Regions from separate parts of the Homo sapiens genome. Here region 2 is linked to region 1. The links come from fine-mapping of genetic effects on gene expression. A gene starts in region 1. The other region holds a variant in brackets. All regions are shown on one strand. Distances are between the middles of the regions.

Region 1 (9,983 bases):
CAAGCTGAACAGGAAGGGCAGCCTTCTATAGAAAAGAAATCACTAGAATATAAATAGCAGGAGGAGCACAAGCAGAACAAGCAACCAACTTCTGCCTGAACTCTTCAGAGTTAGCGTTCCCTTTTCAGGACCTGCTTCCCACCCATATCTGTAACACCCATGTTTGGAATTCGCCCCTGCAGCTGCAGCAATGGGACCAGGGGTGCATACCAACCTAGAGCCAATCTGTTATTGACTGGCCAGCAATGTATATGATTATCTCCCTTGAGAGTCTGAGACTGTAGCATGCCCTTGGACAGAAAGGCCATGAGGAATCAGGGTGGGATAGCTGTTGTCAACCATGTAAATGCTGATGAGTAAGTAGAGAGCTGGTTTGCAAAAATAAGTAGTGATGAGAATTCATGGGGACAGGTGAAAAAGAGATGGGGCAGAAAAGAAAGAAAGAATAAGAGAGAAAGAAAAAGGATGAGACAGCACTAGTATTAGCTCTGTTCATTAGCTTTCTAGTCCCCAGTTCTTAACATTTGATTTAATTTTCTTTTTGTAATTTTGTTTTTGGTCAAGAGTGATGGTAGGATGGGAATGAACAGAAAAGGGACTTTATCTTCACTTTTAAGGGTCCCTGAAAAGATCACTCTTGGATATAGGTTTTATTGTAGATTTGAGCTTTTCTCATTAATGAATACTTCAAAACAGTGAGAGTTTCAGAGGTTGTTTCTCTAGAATTAGTTTTGTTATATTGTTTGTTCATTAAGAGGAATAGCATCACTGTGGGACAGAGCTCCCATAGGCATCAGAAGGCCGAGGCAGATACTTATTTCAGATGAATTAGAGAGGAACAAACTTAAGGCAGGAGGAGGCACTGGGAAACACAGGATGTGGATTTTTCCAGTCCCTGCTCAGCCACTCTCATCGTGACCACAGATTCATCCCTTCACCTCTCTGGATCTCTGCCTCCTCTGCTACACTAAGTAGTGGTCATAGTTATATATTTATATCTGGTCACAGATGTTTTATAATCATAGACCATAGATTATAAATATAATAATAGATTATAAAATATCGAATGAGGGTCTTATCCAAAAACATCTTCACATAAAACTTTCATCTCACTCTGAAGGAGAAAAAGTGTGCACTGGGTAAAGACTCTATTGCCTAAGATCTGGAACTTAAATTTGCAGTAATTTCTAATACTTAAGCACATGTACTTTTCTTCCCGATTGTGCAATAAAGGACGGGAAGTAAAAAGGGGAACATTCTTTATGTTCAAATTAAGTCGGCCGGGCACTGTAGCTCACGCCTGTAATCCCAACATTTTGGGAGGCCGAGGTGGGTGGATCACCTGAGGTCAGGAGATCGAGACCAGCCTGGCCAACATGGTGAAACCCCGTCTCTACTAAAAATACAAAAATTAGCCAGGTGTGGTTTTGTGCGCCTGTAGCCCCAGCTACTCGGGAGGCTGAGGCAGGAGAATTGCTTGAACCTGGGAGGTGGAGGTTGCAGTGAGCTGAGATCATGTCATTGCACTCCAGCCTGGGTGATAAAGCGAGACTCTGTCTCAAAAAAAAAAAAAAAAAAAAAAGTCAGAGGCTCATTTAGGATACAAACTAGATGTGAATAAGTATGGGAAATTTAAAAGATAACCAAATTTGAACCTGAAGTGATCAGCATTTGATATCCTACTGAGATGTCAAAATACTGTTTCTCAGAGAAACTGACTTACCTTTCTTTTCTATTACATAGGCAATGCATGTGTATTGCAGTAAAATTCGACCCAAGTATAACAAATGTTTATATTTAGTGTATATATCTTTAAATATATTCTGACGAACCCTATGCCATTTGCTTAGAACAGATCTGATCGTTCATATGCAATGCTTATGTCCTCAACGAGGCTATAAACTCCATGAGGAGAACCCCTTTACCATAAATCCACATGCCTCCCACCCCCACAGTTTGGTCACTTTCTTTGGGAAGGGATGGGGGAAGTTTATAAATGCTTCCTTCACTAGCACCCATGCATGCATTCATTCATTTGACAAACGTTGTATTGAGCACCTAGTATGGACTTGGGCCAGGTGTAGGAGATTCAAAGGTACATCCCTCCCCTCAGCTTTCCTCCCCACTGCCTTTTTTTTTTTTTTTTTTTGAGACGGAGTCTTGCTCTGTCGCCCAGGCTGGAGTGGAGTGGCGCCATCTCGGCTCACTGCAACCTCCGCCTTCTGGGTTCAAGCTATTCTCCTGCCTCAGCCTCCCGAGTAGGTGGGACTACAGGCGCCCGCCACCATGCCCGGTTAATTTTTGTATTTTTAGTAGAGATGAGGTTTCACCATATTGGCCAGGCTGGTCTCGAACTCCTGACCTTGTGATCCGCCCGCCTTGGCTTCCCAAAGTGCTGGGATTACAGGCGTGAGCCACCGTGCCCGCCCCCCCCGGCTCTGGTTTTTTTTTTTTTTTTTTTTTTTAGACAGAGTCTCCCTCTGTCGCCCAGGCTGGAGTGCAGCGGCGCCATCTTGGCTCACTGCAACCTCCACCTCCTGGGTTCAAGCAATTCTCCTGCCTCAGCCTCCCGAGTAGCTGGGACTACAGGCACACGCCACTACGCCCGGCTAATTTTTGTATTTTTAGTAGAGACGGGGTTTCACCAGACGGGGTTTCACTGTGTTGAGCAGGATGGTCTCGATCTCCTGACCTCATGATCCTACCGCCTCGGCCTCCCAAAGTGCTGGGATGACAGCCGTGAGCCACCGCGCCCGGCCCTGCATGCCCTTTATGACATACCTTTTAGGCCAGGCGCGGTGGCTCATGCCTGTCATCCCAGCACTTTGGGAGGCCGAGGCGGGCAGATCACCTGAGGTCAGGAGATCGAGACCAGCCTGCCCAACATGGTGAAACCCCGTCTCTACTAAAAATACAAAAATTAGCCGGGCGTAGTGGCAGGCGCCTGCAGTCCCAGCTACTCTGGAGGCTGAGGCAGGATAATCACTTGAACCCGGGAGGCGGAGGTTGCAGTGAGCCGAGATGGCACTGCTGCACTCCAGCCTGGGCGACAAGAGCAAAAACTCCATCAAAAAAAAAAAAAAAAAAAAAAGATATACCTTTTTGATCTCAAGAAAGTCACAGTTCAAATAGGGAAACAATACACAATTAACTATTTTACTAAGTACTTGTGCAATTTTAGAGCCATATGTGAAAGTCTTAAGAAAACACAGAAGCAGCCTGGGGTGCGGTGGGTCCTGCCTGTAATCCCAGCACCTTGAGAGGCTGAGGCAGGATGATCGCTTGGGCCCAGGAGTTCAAGACCAGCCTGGGCGACATAGCAAGACCCCATTTCTACAAAAGTAAAAAAAAAAAAAAATAGGTGGGCATGGTGGTGCTTGCTTGTAGTTCCAGCTACTCAGGAAGGAGGCTGAGGCAGGAGGATCGCTTGAGCCCAGGAAGTCAAGGTTGCAAAGTTGCAAGGTTGCAGTGAGTTATGATTGTGCCACTGCAGCCTGAGTGACATAGCGAGACCCTGTGAAAGAAAAAGAAAGAAAGAAAGAAAGAAAGAAAGAAAGAAAGAAAGAAAGAAAGAAAGAAAGAAAGAAAGAGCACAGAAGAGGATTGGGAGGTTATGGGGTACAATTCTTGAGGGGGTGACCCTGGCCAGGCGATGAGAGGGCGGTAGGAAGGGTGATGAGGGGAGAAGAGGATTTAGAAATACAAATTTCAGGGTCTTCTTGTGTCAGCGGGAATTTCTGTCCCTCACAACTTTCATCATAAGATAAATCTAATGTTCAACTAGAGATCTCTCCCGCGCCTTGAACTTGCAAATTTATGAATCAGGGGCAAAAAAAACCCGGATACCGAGCCTGGCCTCCCACCAGCTAGAGAACCCACCAAGTTCCAGGAGGGGCGGGGCCGAGGGCGGTCCGTGCCACAGCTGTGGGCGGGGTTGTCCGTGCTTGCGCCAGAGCCGGCCCGCCCCGCCGCCAGGGGCTGTCGCAGGAGCCAGGCGTGGATTGGTATGTGGGTATGTCGGCCTCTCTTCATAGGCCGCGCAGGATTGCTCGAGAGGCTTTGATTGGCTCAACAGGCGCTGAGCGTTCATTGGCTGCGCTGGGTCGTCAGGGCGACGAAAAAGGGGAAGGGGTGCTGGGCCTGGCGGGCAAACTAAGGCTGCGGACCGTTGGGCGGTTCCGCGGGGCGTTGTCCGGAGAGCTGCGAGGCCGGGGTTCCCAGGGTTCACGCCACACTCTAGGAAGTGCCTGAGCTAGTGAGCTGGCCAACGAGCTCCGCGGGCTGGGACCATGGGCTGCTTCTTCTCCAAGAGACGGAAGGCTGACAAGGAGTCGCGGCCCGAGAACGAGGAGGAGCGGCCAAAGCAGTACAGCTGGGATCAGCGCGAGAAGGTAATGAAAGTCGTGTAGCCGCCGTCTCAGCCTCCCTGAGCCGCTCCGCCAGGTCCCTTACGGCCCGGGACCGCTGAGGGGGCCGACCCAACTGCTGCCGCACTCTCTTGAACGCGGATAGCTGAAGTCGGGGTGCACGACTTTTTTGGGGAGCGGGGACGTGAAGTACAGCGCTAGAGAGGCCGCCCAGAGGGCTGTGGAGCTCCGGAAGGAGCCTTAGGAGTTTGTTGTCGTGGTAGACAGACTCCCCCGGGAGCTTTCTCTGACTCCGAACCCTGCCTTGCTCTGACTTCCTGTTGGAGATGATCGATTCGAGAGAGGGAAAGAGCCGAGAACGCCCTGAATCTCAAATCACCTCGTTTCACCCACCGGCAGCGTCAAGCGGGGTTTTGTCCAGTCGTCGAGTTACGTATATGGGACCGATTCTCATCTCTTCCGGGGCTTAATGTTCTGTGGCTGTTTTCTCTTTTGTCTGCCCTCCCCGGCAAATCTCTTTGGTGCCTCATGATATATTTCACTGCTGAATTTTCTCAATTACCAAGTGGACTGTTTAATGTACAGCTTTACTCCCCCTCCTCTTCCAGTTATCCGAAAGAAATAATGAATATCGCATCAGTCTTGGAATGTGTATTAAGACTGTAAGGTGAAAATAAGCGGCATAAACCAGGCAGTATTTTACTGCTGGTTTAAATGAATGAAAACGCCCTTATTTTTATTTTTGTATATAGCCAGAAACGAAAAACCTTTGAAAACCTCCATTAGTCTTACACAAAACACACTCGGTCATACATTTCATAATAGTTCCTCTTTCTACATAGTTCTCCATTTGTGCTTACTAAACTACTTTGATGGACTTATCAATTATTTCTCCCAAACAAAATGAGAGATTTTTCAAATGGGTATTATGAACAGTTAACTCTTTGCTTAAGGCAACATATCTTTACCCAAGATTACTTTATAATAAATGTATTAACGTTTTGGAATCACAGACCTTTCTGCATGATTTCCAATCCCCAGCAGAATGTATTCAGGTAAGCTCTGGTCTCTAAGAGTCAGAGTTAGGAAATTGAAAGCTTTTTGCAGCTTTTCTCAGCCCCGTCTTTCTGCCCCTACTTCTCATACACACCCTTCTTGGGTCACATGGTACCTTTATTCTCTGTTAGTCATACTCGATAGTAGCATTTTATAATGTAGGGGAAGAAAGTACTATGCTTTCTATTTCACAAGAAGATTGCACCTGCCATTTAAAGTTATCTGATGGGCGGTTTTTAAAAGATATTGTTTTCCTCAGCCTTTGGCTTTCTAACAATGTTCTTTTAGCTTGAATTGTCTGCCTTAGAGAAAGTTGCATATTTCATTTTTATTTTAGTTTTTTCTTTTGAACTCAGGCTAAATCTAAACTAAATAAAATGCCTTTTTTATTTATAGTAGTCTTGGCTGCCTATGACTCATCGTTTCACAATAAATTGTTTTACAGTTAATGTTTATTAACATAATATTCAGGTTAGTTAGGACTTCTCATGTTAATCCTTCTTTTAGATAAGTGTGTGTGTCCTGTGATTTTTTTTCTTCTTTTGCCCATTGGCTAAGTAAATGCATTGAGAAATATAACATTGGACACCAACATCTAAGCTTTTTCCCCACAAATGAGTGTGTAATAAACTTTCAATTGTAGAAACTGTTTTGAGCTTACAGAGAACCTTTTTTTTTGAGAACACTACTAAGTTCTGTAGTTGTAGAGTTGTAAGAGATGTTATTGGATATATAAAATAAGCTCATGCTTCTGAGTGTGTGTATAATAAAAGTTAAAATCTTGATCAACTCAGCCAATCAAAATGAGAATTTCTAACCAAATGAGCATTCTGAAAAAAACCCCAGTTTTAAAATATTTTGGACTGTTGAAGAGAATTACCAGCTTACATTTTGAGACAATGCAGATACCACATTTCCCAACATAGCTTTTTCTTTTTAGTTTTTTTTTCTTTTGGAATTACTAGGAATTCTTTCTAAGTTGCCTCATTTTGATAGCTTGTTAAATTTTATACAATTTAAAATATTTTTTTCTAGGGCCAGGCATGGTGACTCATGCCTGTAATCCCAGGACTTTGGGAGGCCAAGGCTGGTGGCTCTCTTGAGCCCAGGAGTTCCAGACCAGCCTGGGCAATATGGCGAAACCTCATTCCTACTAAAAATACAAAAATTAGTGGGGCATGGTGGTGCACACCTGTAGTCCCAGCTACTCAGTAGGCTGAGGTGGGAGGATCACCTGAGCCTGGGACTTAGAGGCTGCAATGAGTCATGATCGGGCCACTGCCCTCCAGCTTGGGCAACAGAGTGAGACCCTGTTTCCAAAAAAAAAAAATAAATAAATAAAATATTTTTTCCTAGTTCCTTGCCTCCCGTGAGGTTAATTTGGGCTAGTGTGCAAATGTTCTGTATTAGTCCAATGATACGTTTACTGAGCATGGCCTTGCTTGCTCCTAGAAGATTTCAGTTGTACCTTAAAAGGAACAGATTGCAAATACAGCCCAGAGAACATAAATGAGATATGATGCATGCATATTAATAGAAATGATTTATATTAAAAGTTTAGGCTTCTGGAATGTGGTTATGGATTATAGCATATACAGTTTTAAAGTTATATCAGACAATTACCATTCAACTTGTAAGACTTTTACATGTAAAAACAAAATGGGTTGCCTGAAAAATTTCCTTGCAGCTTAGAAAAGGGTGTTTACATTTTTCCTTAGGTTGTGTAATCAGAGTATCTTTTTTTGATGTTTTCTTTTTGAGATGGAGTCTGGCTCTGTCATCGCCCAGGCTGGAATGCAGTGGCGCGATCTCGGCTCACTGCAACCTCTGCCTCCTGGGTTCAAGCGATTCTCCAGCCTCAGCCTCCTGAGTAGCTGGAATTACAGGCGTGCACCACCACGCCTGGCTAATTTTTGTATATTTTTAGTAGAGACAGGGTTTCACCTTGTTGGCCAGGCTAGTCCTGAACTCCTGACCTCAGGTGATCCACCTGCCTCAGCCTCCCAAAGTGCTGGGATTACAGGCGTGAGCCACCGCTCCCAGCCCAGAGTATCTTTATTGAAGGGCACCCCTTGGGTTTTGGGGTTTGAGTTGTGTAATTGGGTCAGTCTTAGGGGACTGAAGCTGGGAGAAATTGTCTCATTTAGAAGGAATGTCTGGGGACTAAGCATTGTCATAGCAACTGACATACTGTAGTCAACAGTGTAAGAAGCTCATTTTCTATTGCTACTGACTTTGAAAAAGAAAAAAGATTACAATTCTTACACTGATGTGATGAGAAATATTTTTGGATTGTAAGACTTGTGTTTAAATTATTTCAAAAGAAATGTTTTTATCCTTATCTGTATGCTGCCACCCATAGGTAGGCAAATTATTCAGTATGTATGTACTCAAACACCAAGTAAGTCTCAAAATTATAAGACTTATCCCTGCCCTAAAAGAGTTTACTGGCTTTCTGGAGTTAAAACAGGAAACATTTAAGTACATATGAGGTGAGGAAGAGTGATACGGAAAAGTAGTTTTCATCTTCCAGTATTCATGCCCATACTTTTCCTCCTAGATAATAGAAATGAGGATTAACTCTAAACAATTATGGCTTAAGTGTGAAAATTGTGATTTGAGTAAGGACAACACATGTGTCTGTTATATTTGTCTCATATTCAATAGAAATAATACTAAACAAAAATCTTATACCAGAAATTCGAGTATCTATTGTGTAACTTTGGGTAAAGCAGCCAATTTGTGCACTTCAGGTTCCTCAGCTATATAGTAGGACAATGCTAAAGATTTCTCTACTGTTTAGTAAGGTAAAGGCCTGTCCTGAAGAAGAGGTTTAGACAGTAATGGTCACCTCTGAGGAAAGAACTTAAACCAGAGGTTGGGCATGACAGAACTGGTTTTAACATAAGGCAGATCATAATTCCCAGGATTGGTCATCAGTGGAAGGGGTGGCTTCGTTGAGGACCTGATCTCCATGTTAGTCAAAATTGTCAGACAGTTAGGGTGGTAATCTGCTAGAAAGAAGTGTCTGCACTAAGTAGGAGGAGGCTAGATACTGTTTTTAGCCTTCTTTTAAGTATGAAAAGTATTCTAGTTACCCATTGCTGTGTACCAAACCACCCTAAAACTTAATGGTTTAAAATAATGGCAGATATTTTGTTCATAACTCTTTAATTTGCATAAGGTTAAGCAGGGTTGACTCTGCTCAATGTGGCATCAACCGTGACAGCTTTCAAGATGGCTTGACCACATAGCTGGCTGGCAAGTTGATGCTGGCTTTGGGCTGGGAGCTCAGCTGGGGCCTCTCCATGTATTCCTGGCTTCCTTACAGTGTGATGGCAGGGTTCCAAGGGCAAGCATCCTAAGAGAGACTGGCAGAAGCTGCATGGTTTTTTTCTAACTAGCTTATTAAGTGAATTCTTAAGTCACTTAATTAGACTTAATTTGGATGTGGCAGGAGTAATGCTGAGGCAGTCACAAATGCCCACCCAGTTCCAAGAGGAGGTGACCTCTCAATGGGAGGAGTGTCAAAGAATTTGCCAGTAGGTTTTAAATCCTCTATATAAAGTTGTTTAAAGGATATAACTAGTTCTTTGTTTATTAATTTTAAAAATAGCTTTTTAGAGATATAATTCATATGCCATACAATTCACCCATTTAAAGTATATAATTCATTCTATCTAACTGTATATATATTTTTGAGATGGAGTCTCACTCTGTTGCCCAGGCTGGAATGCAGTGGTATGATCTCCGCTCACTGCTCCGCCTCCTGGATTCAAGCGATTCTCTCACCTCAGCCTCCCAAGTAGCTGGGATTATAGGCGCGTGCCACCACACCCAGCTAGTTTTTGTATTTTTTAGTAGAGATGAGGTTTCACCATGTTGGCCAGGCTGGTCTCGAAACTCCTGGCCGCAGGCAATCTGCCTGCCTCGACCTCTCAAAGTGCTGGGATTACAGGCATGAGCCACAGTGCCTAGCCGTCTAACTGTGTTTTTGTACTCATTAACCAACCACTCTTCATCCTCTCCTCCCCACTACCCACCACAGCCAACTATTGTTGATAATAATTTATTGTATATTTCAAAATAGCTAGAAGAGAAAATGTGGAATGTTCCCAACACAAAGACATGATAAGTGTTTGAGGTAATGGATATCCCAGTTACCCATATTTGATCATTACATTGTTGTATGCTTGTATGAAAATATCACATGTACCCCATAAATGCATACTACTATTATTATATATCCATAAAAATTTAAAATAAATTTAGTTTAAAAATAAAGTATATAATTCAGTATTTTTTAGTAAGTTCACAGGCTTATCACCATGGTCTAATTTTAGAACATTTTCATCCCTGGAAAAAGAAACCCTGTACCCATTAGTAGTCATTCCCCATTCTCGTCTCTCCGAGCCCCTGGAAACCACAAACTTATTTTCTGTCTCTATAAGTGTTCCTATTTTGGACATTTCACTTCATTGGAGCCACAATATTTAGCCTTTTGTGACTGGCATCTTTCACTTAGCATGTTTTTGAAGTTTGTCCATATCGTAACATGTA
Region 2 (9,983 bases), 410 kb before region 1:
ATTCTTTACTTAGCCAGGATTTTCCAAATCCTTATGTTCCTCTTCCCTTTTAATTATACATTCCATGTTTAAATCATTTCTCTCTTCTTGCATTTAACTATATGCAATTAGAAGAAGTCAGACAACACCCTGAATGCTTTGCTACTTATATGTTCTTCTGTCATATCCTAGTTCATTGCTTTTAAGTTCTGCTTTCCACAAAACCTTCAGACATGGGTACAATTCAGCCAAGTTATTTGCCATTTTATGACAAAGAAGGACTTTACTGTAGTTTATGATACCTTGTTTCTCATTTCCATCTGAAATCTCACCAGAATTACCTTTACCATTCATATTTCTACCAACATTCTGATCATGACTACTTAGTGATCTTTCAGAAATTTCGGACTTTCCTGACTGCTCTCTTCTTCTGAGCCCTCACCAGAATCGCTCTAAACACTTTATTCATGGCAATATAGGCTTTTGCTAGGATACTCCTCCAAGTTCTTCCAGCCTATAACCACCACCCAGTTTCAAAGTAGCTTCCAGATTTTCAGGTATATGTTATAGCAACAGCCCTATTTCTGAGTACCAAAATCTGTATTCGTTGGGGTTCTCCAGAGAGAGACAGAGCCAATAGGATAGATACATGATAGGTAGATAAGTGATAGATAAATAGATAGATAGATAAGAGGGGATTTATTAGGAGAATTTGCTCATGTGCTTATAGAGGCTTAGAAATCCCATGATAGGCTATCTGCAAGCTAAAGAACCAGAGAGGCTGGTAACATGGCTCAGTCCAAGTCTGAAGGCCACAGAACCAGAGAATCGAATGGTGTAACTCTCGGTCCAATGTCAAAGTCCTGAGAACCTAGGAGGTTGCTGGTGCAAGTCCCAAAATCCAAAGGCTGGAGAACTTGAAGTTCTGATGTCCAAGGGCAGAAGAAGAAGGGTGTCCCAGCTCCAGGACAGAGAGAGAGAGAGAGAGAGAGAGAAAGAGAGAGAACACGAATTCACCTTTCCTCTGCCTTTTTCTTCTATCTGGGCCCCCAGCCAACTGGATGGTGCCCATCCACATTGAGGGTGATCTTCCCCACTCAGTCCACTGACTACACACCAATCTCTTCTGGAAACACCCTCACGGATACACTCAGAAATAATGTTTTACCAGTTTTCCAGGTATCCCTTCATCTAGTCAAGTTGACACCTAAAATTAACCATCACACCAAAGTTTTCTCTTATGTTTTTCTCTAAAAGTTTTAGCACTAAAATTTAGGTCTTTGACCCATTTCAAGTGAATTTTTGTGTATAGTGTGAGGTAAGAGTGCAAATTCATCCTTTTGCATGTGGACATCCAATTGTCCCAGCAACTATCATTGAAAACACTATCCTTTCTCCATTGAATTGTCCTGGCACCTTTGTCAAAAATCCATTCACCATAAATGGAAGGGTTTATTTCTGGACTCGATTCTGTACCATCATCTGTCTTCATGACAATATCACACTGTCTTTTTAAACTTATTTTTAGAATAGTTTTTAAAAATTTTTAAATTGACAAATAAAAATTGTGTGTATTTATGTTGTACAACATGATATTTTGAAATATGTATACACTGTGGGATGGCTAAATCAAGCTCATTAACATGTACATTACCACACATACTTATCATTTATTTGTGATGATAATATTTGAAATCTACTGTCTTAGCAATTTTCAAGTATACAATACATTGTTATTAGCTGTAGTCACTGTATTGTACAATAGATCTCTTACACTTATTCCTCCTGGCTGTAAAATTTTGTATCCTTTGACCAACGCTGTCTTGATTACTGCGGCTTTATAGTAATTTCTGAAATCAGAAAGTGAAAGTATTTCAACTTCTGTTTTTTTTCAAAAATCTCTTTGTTATTCTGAGTCCTATTAAGATCAGCTTATAAATTTCTGAAATAATTCAGATGTCTTTACTTATGTATAGTTCTATTTATTTATCATTATTATTTTTTTTTGAGACAGAGTCTCACTCTGTCGCCCAGGCTGGAGTGCAGTGGTGTGATCTCGGCTCACTGCAACCTCCGTCTCCCTGGCTCAAACAATTCTCATGCCTCAGCCTCCTGAGTAGCTGGGATTACAGGCGCCCACCACCACCCTCGGCTAATTTTTGTATTTTTAGTAGAGACAGGGTTTCACCATGTTGGCCAGGCTGGTCTCAAACTCCTGACCTCAGGTGATCTGCCCCCCTCGGCCTCCCAAAGTACTGGGATTACAGGCATGAGCCACCTCGCTTGGCCCACTTATGTGTAGTTCTATTTTGATTCTCTGTCTCTACTTGAATCATTTTTGGTAATTTGTTTATTTCTAGCAATTTGTCCACTTCACCTACATTGTCTTTAAATTCCTTTGTTGAATTGTTTTGCTACATATTTAAAAGTTATTTTCTTAGTTGTTGCTCTAGGGATTACAATATGAATCTTAACCTGTCACTCTCTATTTCATAGTCATTACTAATTACCTTTGGCAAAATATAAAAAATTTGTACTAATATCATATATGTCCACTTCTCCCCCCTACACACACTCTGCTATTATTTTCATATATGCATTATATTTTTATATGTTATAAGCATAAAAATCATTTTATAAGAATTGTTTTATGTAAGGCTGGGTGCGGTGGCTCACGCCTATAATCCCAGCACCTTGGGAGGCTGAGGCAGGTGGATCACTTGAGGTCAGGAGTCTGAGACCAGTCTGGCCAACATGGTGAAACCCCATCTCTACTAAAAATACACAAATTGGCTGAGCGTGGTGGTGCACACCTGTAATCCCTGCTACTCAGGAGGCTGAGGCAGGAGAATCGCTTGAACCCGGGAGGCAGAGATTGCAGTGAACCGATATTGCACCACAGAACTCCAGCCTGGCGACAAAGCAAGACTCTGTCTCAAAAAAAAAAAAAAATGAGTTGTTTCATGCAATCTTATGTCATTTAGATACATTAGGAAAAAAATATATATTTATATAATATTGTATATTTACCTACAGATTTACCTTTTCTGGAGCTTTGTATTTCTCTGAGTGAATCAGAGCTACCATCTAGTGTCATTTCCTGTCAGTGTGAAGGATTTTATTTTTTCTAGAAAAACACCTATGTCTATGAGAAATAAGGTTACTTTGGGTTTACAAAATACTGGATAACTAACCCAGAGGCAGATACAAGGCTAAAATGGAAAGGATACAAATATTCTATTTGTATCCCATTAATTCCTGGTACATTCATATTTTGACATGGTGTTTCTACATATTTTGGAAAATGCAACCATGAGGTGGCCAACAAATCTTTGGATTATCCCCCTCCAACCTATGTGAGAGTAGGTTGCAGATTCCTTCTTTGAAAAAAAACGTTAATAGGAAAATCTTGCAGTAGAGAGCACTTCGTCACTTTGATATGGACATCACCACTACCACCTCAAGCTAAGAGAGGGTCCACGAGATAACTCAGAATAACAGAGGTTGCCTTCCATATGGAGAGACTGACATCTGCTTCTGCCCCAGGTGCTGAGCTGTAGAAACGTATAGACCTACCCAATTCTGTCTCTGGGATACAGCTTGAGGGAGTTTTTGGTAAAGCTTGACATGTCCTCAGAGTTTTAGAATGTAGATAAGGACAGAGACTGATGACTGCTTCTACCTGGATAAACCTGTAGAGAGGAGGCTCGTGTAGCAGCCTGACATGGCAGGGTAAGGAAAGCGAGTCTAGACAGCGTGTATGTCCAGAGTTTGGTGGGGTGAAGATGTGTGGGTTTTTCCCAGGGGCCAAGAAGGCAGCCAGTTGGAAGAATCTTGAAGGGTGGTGACCCAAGTGGACAGGTTGTCAGGTGAGGAAACTGGTGGTAGGAGTAACTCCTGTGGTAGAAACTGAGACAGTAAGTAATTGAGTTCAGGAGTATTTGCAAATTCGGTCTTTTTGGGCTTTTGGGGGCCATCAGAACATCCCTATATATTCTTTTTTTTTTTTTTTTTTTTTTTGAGGCAGAGTTTCACTCTTGTTGCCCAGACTGGAGTACAATGGGGCCATCTCGGCTTACTTCAAGCTCCACCTCCCAGGTTCAAGCAATTCTGCTTCGGCCTCCGAAGTAACTGGGACTGCGGACATGCACCACCACACTCGGCTAATTTTTGTATTTTTAGCAGAGATGGGGTTTCACCGTGTTGGCTAGGCTGGTCTTGAACTCCTGACCTCATGATCCACCTGCCTCAGCCTCCCAAAGTGCTGGGATTACACCCCGCGCCAGAACATCCTTATATTCTCTCCACTACTTCTCTGTATTGCTGCTAAACCTGTACAGGACCTACAAAGGTCTTGCCGTTGTCAATGGTTTGGTTGCAACCATTTGCATTCTGGTGTTCCTGGGGATGCTCGTCACCTCGTTTTGTTCATAATGTAATCTGGGAAATTTTTTCTTTTGCCATCATAATGGTTCTTTGCTATCATAATGGTTTTAAGATAGCATTTAGGGAGATCAAAAACTACACTATAAGCAAGGCCCTATGGCTCATGCCTATAAGTCCAGCACTTCAGGAGGCCAAGGCAGAATGATTGCTTGAGACCAGGAGTTTGAGACCAGCCTGGGCAACACAGGGAGACCCCGTCTCTAAAAAAAAAAAAAAAAATTTAAATTAGCTGAATGTGGTGGTGCATGCCTGTAGTCCCAGCTACTCGGGAGGCTGAGGTGGGAGGATAGCTTGAGCCAGGGAGGTCCAGGCTGCAATAAGCCATGATTGTGCCACTGCACTCCAGTCTGGGTGACAGAGCAAGCCCTTGTCTCAAAAAAACCAAAAACCCAAAAACTGCACTACCATTATTACCTTGCATTGGCCTGTTAGTCCAGTACTGACTTGTTAAAGAAACCAGGCCAGTTAACTTGTAGACTGTCCCACATTCTATATCATCTGATTGTTTCCTCATGATGTCGTCTAACTCTTCCTTTATCTCCTGTATTTTCTGTAGACTTGAAGTTAGGTCTAGAGGTTTGATCAGTTTCAGGTTAAGCATTTTTAACCAGAATACTTAATAATGACCAAGAACACTTCATGGGTAATATTGTGCAACCACTTTAATGATGCTAAGTTTTCTAACTAGCAAGTAATCTGTGGACTGACATTTTAGAGAGCGGGATGTTAGCATCGTGTTCAAAAACAACTTTTATTGAATGTTTTTAACATCCCTCAAGGATCTTTGCCTGAATCAATTATTACACTGAGGCTTGCAAAATAGTGATTTACTAATTACACAATTATTTGTATATTTATTAGGTGGCAT[TC/T]TTTTATAAATAATGGCTGTAGTAAATAATGTGTTGCTCTGCTCAGATCTCCTCTTCAGGGCCAACACACTATCCTCCTACTTCTGGGAAAATCAGCTACTGACTTCACAGCTATGTCCCTCATTTCAAACTGACCTTGGCTACAGAGAACTGCTTTACTCAAGGCTACCCACCCCTTTCACCCCTCAAGGAACAGGCAGTAGTCAATGAGTATCTGATGTAGAAATACAAGTCATGCATGGCTTACTGATGGGGATACATTCTGAGAAATGCTCGCTCCTTTAGACAATTTCATCCATGTGCGAACATCATGAGTGTATTTACACAAACCTAGATGGTATCATCTACTGCACACCTAGGCTACATGGCATAGCCTATTGTTTCTAGGCTACAAACCAGTACAGTGTATGACTGTACTGGATACTATAGGCAATTGTCACACAATGGTAAGTATTTGTGTACATAAACATATCTAAATGTAGAGAAGGTAGTGCATCATGCTAAGATGTTATGACAGCTACAATATCACTAGATGATAGGAATTTTTCAGCTTCATTATAATCTTGTGGGATCACAGTTGTATATGCGGTCTGACATTGACTAAAACATTCTTAGGCAGTGCATGACTCTACAAAGGTTCAGCCCACTCTCCTTAATTTGAGACAACTCTGAAGGGCCATCCCAGCTCCAGAGCTCTCTGTAGAATTGTCTCAGGCCTCAGTTGTAACTGCATTGTAGGTCAACTTCTCTCTCGGTCCAGTCTTGTCTTCCTCACCCTCTTACAGATGTTTCTCCACAGATCTCTTCCCAATAAACTTTCTGTATCCAGCTTTCCATCTGAGAGTCTGTTAACCTGAAATCCATTATAAGACAAAACAAACAGCTTTCACCTTTTTTCCTTTTAACCTTTCCTTATAATGTTTTTGAAGTATCATTATGAATTTAGGGAATTTAATTTATCGAATGTGTTAGAATAAATTACGGCCGTTATTCTTTTTGATGTTGAAATGATCTCAAATGTGGCCAGTGAAGGCCCTTCATGATGCTGCCTATGTCATGGGGCCCCATGAGTCTTTAAGCATTTCCTTGCTTTTTAGCACAATAAGATAGCCCATGAGCAACATGTATTTTTCTACCCCCAGACCTGGAATTAGACATTACCCAAAAAATCTCTGGTGCCCTTTTAGTGAGAATGGTGGTTAGAGATCAAGATAATGGGCACTAGGGGTAAACTATTTTGTTTAATTTCATTATCTAAACGTCTTTTTGTTGATATACAGAAATGCAATGTATTTCTGCACAGACATTCACTGGGGTTGCATTAGAATTAAAATTAAGTTCTCCTAAATCTCAATGTATATTAGAAATATTTTCAGCTGCAAGTAACAGGAAGCTCACTCACAATGGCCTACAAAAACAAGATGTTTAGTTAGCTCACCTGATAAGGAGTCTGGTTACAATCAGTCTGGGACTAATGCAATGGCTCAATGATTCTGTCAGGGGGGACCCATACTGTTACTATTTAGCTCTTAGTTTGTCCTCTTGTTTTTTGCCTCATTGCTACAAGATGACTGGCCTACACCAGGTATTGTCTACATTCCAGGCAAGTGTAAGGAAGGATAAAGAAGTTAATGACAAAAATATATTCTCCTTTCCAGGTTTTGCTTTTTTATTGGGGAAAGATGCCCTCTCTGGCCGGGTGTGTTGGCTCACGCCTGTAATCCCAGCACTCTGGGAGGATGAGGCAGAAGGTTGCTTGAGCCGAGGAGTTTCAGACCAGCCTGGGCAACATGGCAAGACCCCAGCTCTACAAAAAATACAAAAATTAGCCCAGTGTGTTGGCCCGTAGTTCCAGCTACTCGGGAGGCTGAGTTGGAAGGATTGATTAAACCCAGAAGTTGGTGGCTGCAGTGAGCTGTGATCATGCCACTGCACTCCAGCCTGGGTGACAGAGTGAGACCCTGTCTCAAAAAACAAATACCCTCTCCAGATAATTCCACTTGCTCATTATTAGACAGAACTGTCACAAGTCCAACTCTTGATGTATAATAAAGTAGTTTAGAAAATTGAGTTTTATTTTTAGCTGCTAGCCCAGAATTATATTCCCAGTGAAAATATCCTTTAAAATGAACATAAAGTAAAACTAGTCTCAGAAAAACCAAAACTGATACAATTAATTGTCACCAGAGTATTTATTCAGGTTAGAAAATAATGAGCCCCAAAATATGAAAATGCAAAAAGGAATAAAGAGTACAGGAAAGGATAAATATGTAGGTCAACCTATATGAATACTGATTGTATTAAACAATTATCATAATGTATTGAAAGGCTTAAAATATACATAGAACTGACATTCACAGCAACAATAGTACAAAATATAAAAGGGAATTAATTGAGTTGAAATATTTTACATCATTGCATTGTTGAGGAAGTAGTAAATATACTAATCTGTAGTGGACTAATAAATCAAGGGTGTACATCATAATCCTTAGAACCATTAAAATAATGATTAAAGAATGCAAAACTAAGAAGGTGAAGGAAGGGAAATAGAATAATAAAAGTTAATTGATTAATCCAAAAGTCAGGAAAGGAGAAAAAAAAGGAACAAATAATAGGAGACAAAACAGGTGAGAAGTAGTAACATAGTATACTGAAACATACATATATCAGTAATTATGATGAAGCTCAAATTGTCAGAATGGATTTTAAAAAGAAGGGTAACTATATGTGGTTTACAGGAAATATATCATTAATATGAAAACAGAGATGAAAAGCAAAATGATGTAATATAATATACAATGCAAATACTAATCAAAAGATGGTTGGTGTAGCTATGTTAATATTGTGGGTTGAATGGTAGTCCCCAAAAAGATATGTCCTAACCCCCAGAACCTGTGAATGTAGCCTTATTTGGAAAAGGGATCTTTGCAAAAGTAATTAAATTAAGGATCTTGAGGTGAAATTATTCAGGATTATCCAGATGGGCTCTAAATCCAACGACAAATGTCCTTATTAGAGACTTAAGAGGAGAAGAGAGAGAAGAGGAGAATACCAGTAAAGACAAGCAGAGACTGGAGTTATGTAGCCATGAGCCAAGGACTCCTCAGAGCCACCAGAAGGTGGAAGAATAGGAAGCATCCTTCCCCAGCACCTTTGGAAGAATTGCATTCCTGTCAAACCTTGATTTTAGACTTCTGCCCTCCAGAACTGTGTGAAAGTAAATTTCAGTTTTTAAGCCACTAAATTTGTGGTAATTTGTTATAGAAGCCCTAGGAAACTAATAAAGATTTTGGTACTAGGAAGCAGGGTGCTGGAGTAACAAATAGCTAAAAATATGGAAATGGCTGTGGAATTGAATACCGGACAGAGGCTAGAAAAAGTTTAAGAAGCATGATGGAAAAATTCCAGATTGCCTTGAAATGATTGTTAGTAGAAATATGAACATCAAGGCAATTCACGTCACGGCTCAGGAGGAAATGAGGAGTATGGTAGAGAAGGCTTCTATAACCTTAGAGAATACATATATTGTTATGCAGAATGTTGATAAAAATATGAACAATAAAGGCATGTATAGTAAGAATGCAGAAGGAAATGAGGGACGTGCATTGGGAATGGAGAAAAGGTGATCCTTGTTATATAGTGGCAGAAAACTTGGCTGAGTTGTATTCCACAGTTGTGTAGAAAGCAGAACTTGTAAGTGATGAATTTAGGGATGTAGCTGAAGAGATTTCCAAGCAGTGCTAAAAGTGTGGCCTAGTTTCTTCTCGCTGCTTAAAGTAAAATGCAGGAGGAAAGAGATAAATTGAGAAAGAAATTGTTAAACAAAATGGAATGAGCATTTGATGATTTGGGAGGTTCTTGGCCTACCAAGTTTGCAAAAGATGCTAAAATTAGAAAATTCACTGTTGAGAAAAAAAAAAGAAAATTTACTGTCGGGAAAAAAAAAAGAAAATTCACTGTTGGGAATAAATGTTCCAGGGAGAGGGTTAAGGGTTTTGCTAAATAACTTTTTGCTGAAGAGATTAGGTGTGTTACTCATGGACCCAATCAACCATCTCAGCAGAGGCCAAGAATCAAGGGATGGAAATGAGAATGGCACTACCCACCCCTAGAGATCCACTAGCAAAATTTTTGCTTCCAATCTCTGCGACCTTATGTTTTACTGGTCTAGAGATCTTAGTTTCAAAGGAAGGAATGCTTTCCACTAGGAGACACAACAATGATTCCATTGAACTGGAAGTTAAGACTGCCATCCAGCTGCTTTGGGTTCCTCTTGCCTCTAAATCAACAGGCAAAGAAGGAAGTTACTGTACTAGCTGGGGTGATTGGGCCTGATGAGCAAGGAGAAACTGGGCTGCTAATACAATTGAAGGTAAGAAGGATTTTATCTAGAGTACTGGAGTTTCCTTAGGGCATCCCTTGGTACCACCATGTGCTGTGATTAAAGTCAATGAAGAACTACAACTCAATCCAGGCAGGACTCATAATTGTCCACACCCCTCAGAAATGAAGGTTGTGTAACCCCACCAGGCAAAATACCACAACCAGCTGAGGTGTTTGCTGAGGGCAAAGGGAATATGAAATAGTAATGAAAGATGGCAGTTATAAGTACCTAGCTATGAGCACATGACTGGTTGCAGAAATGAGGACTATAATTGTTATTTCTTCTTTGTTTTTGTATGAATATGT

What was found. PIP is the estimated chance that this variant, and not a neighbour inherited with it, causes the effect. A credible set is the group of variants that fine-mapping cannot tell apart.
Region 2: its variant is the best candidate, but not a certain one, in a credible set for the expression of RP2 in whole blood (TOPMed, PIP 0.88).

Annotation. Positions count from the first base shown.
Region 1 is chrX:46,832,812-46,842,794 of GRCh38, forward strand. It overlaps RP2 (RP2 activator of ARL3 GTPase), which reads left to right and starts at 4,232. Exons shown (of 5, transcript NM_006915.3): 1 at 4,232-4,391. The coding sequence starts at 4,290. RefSeq lists a silencer at 3,834-3,913 and an enhancer at 4,224-4,363.
Region 2 is chrX:46,422,091-46,432,073 of GRCh38, forward strand. No RefSeq gene overlaps it. Among named protein-coding and RNA genes, the nearest start is that of KRABD4, 20 kb to the right of the region's middle. The variant TC/T (reference allele first, on the strand shown) is at 5,294.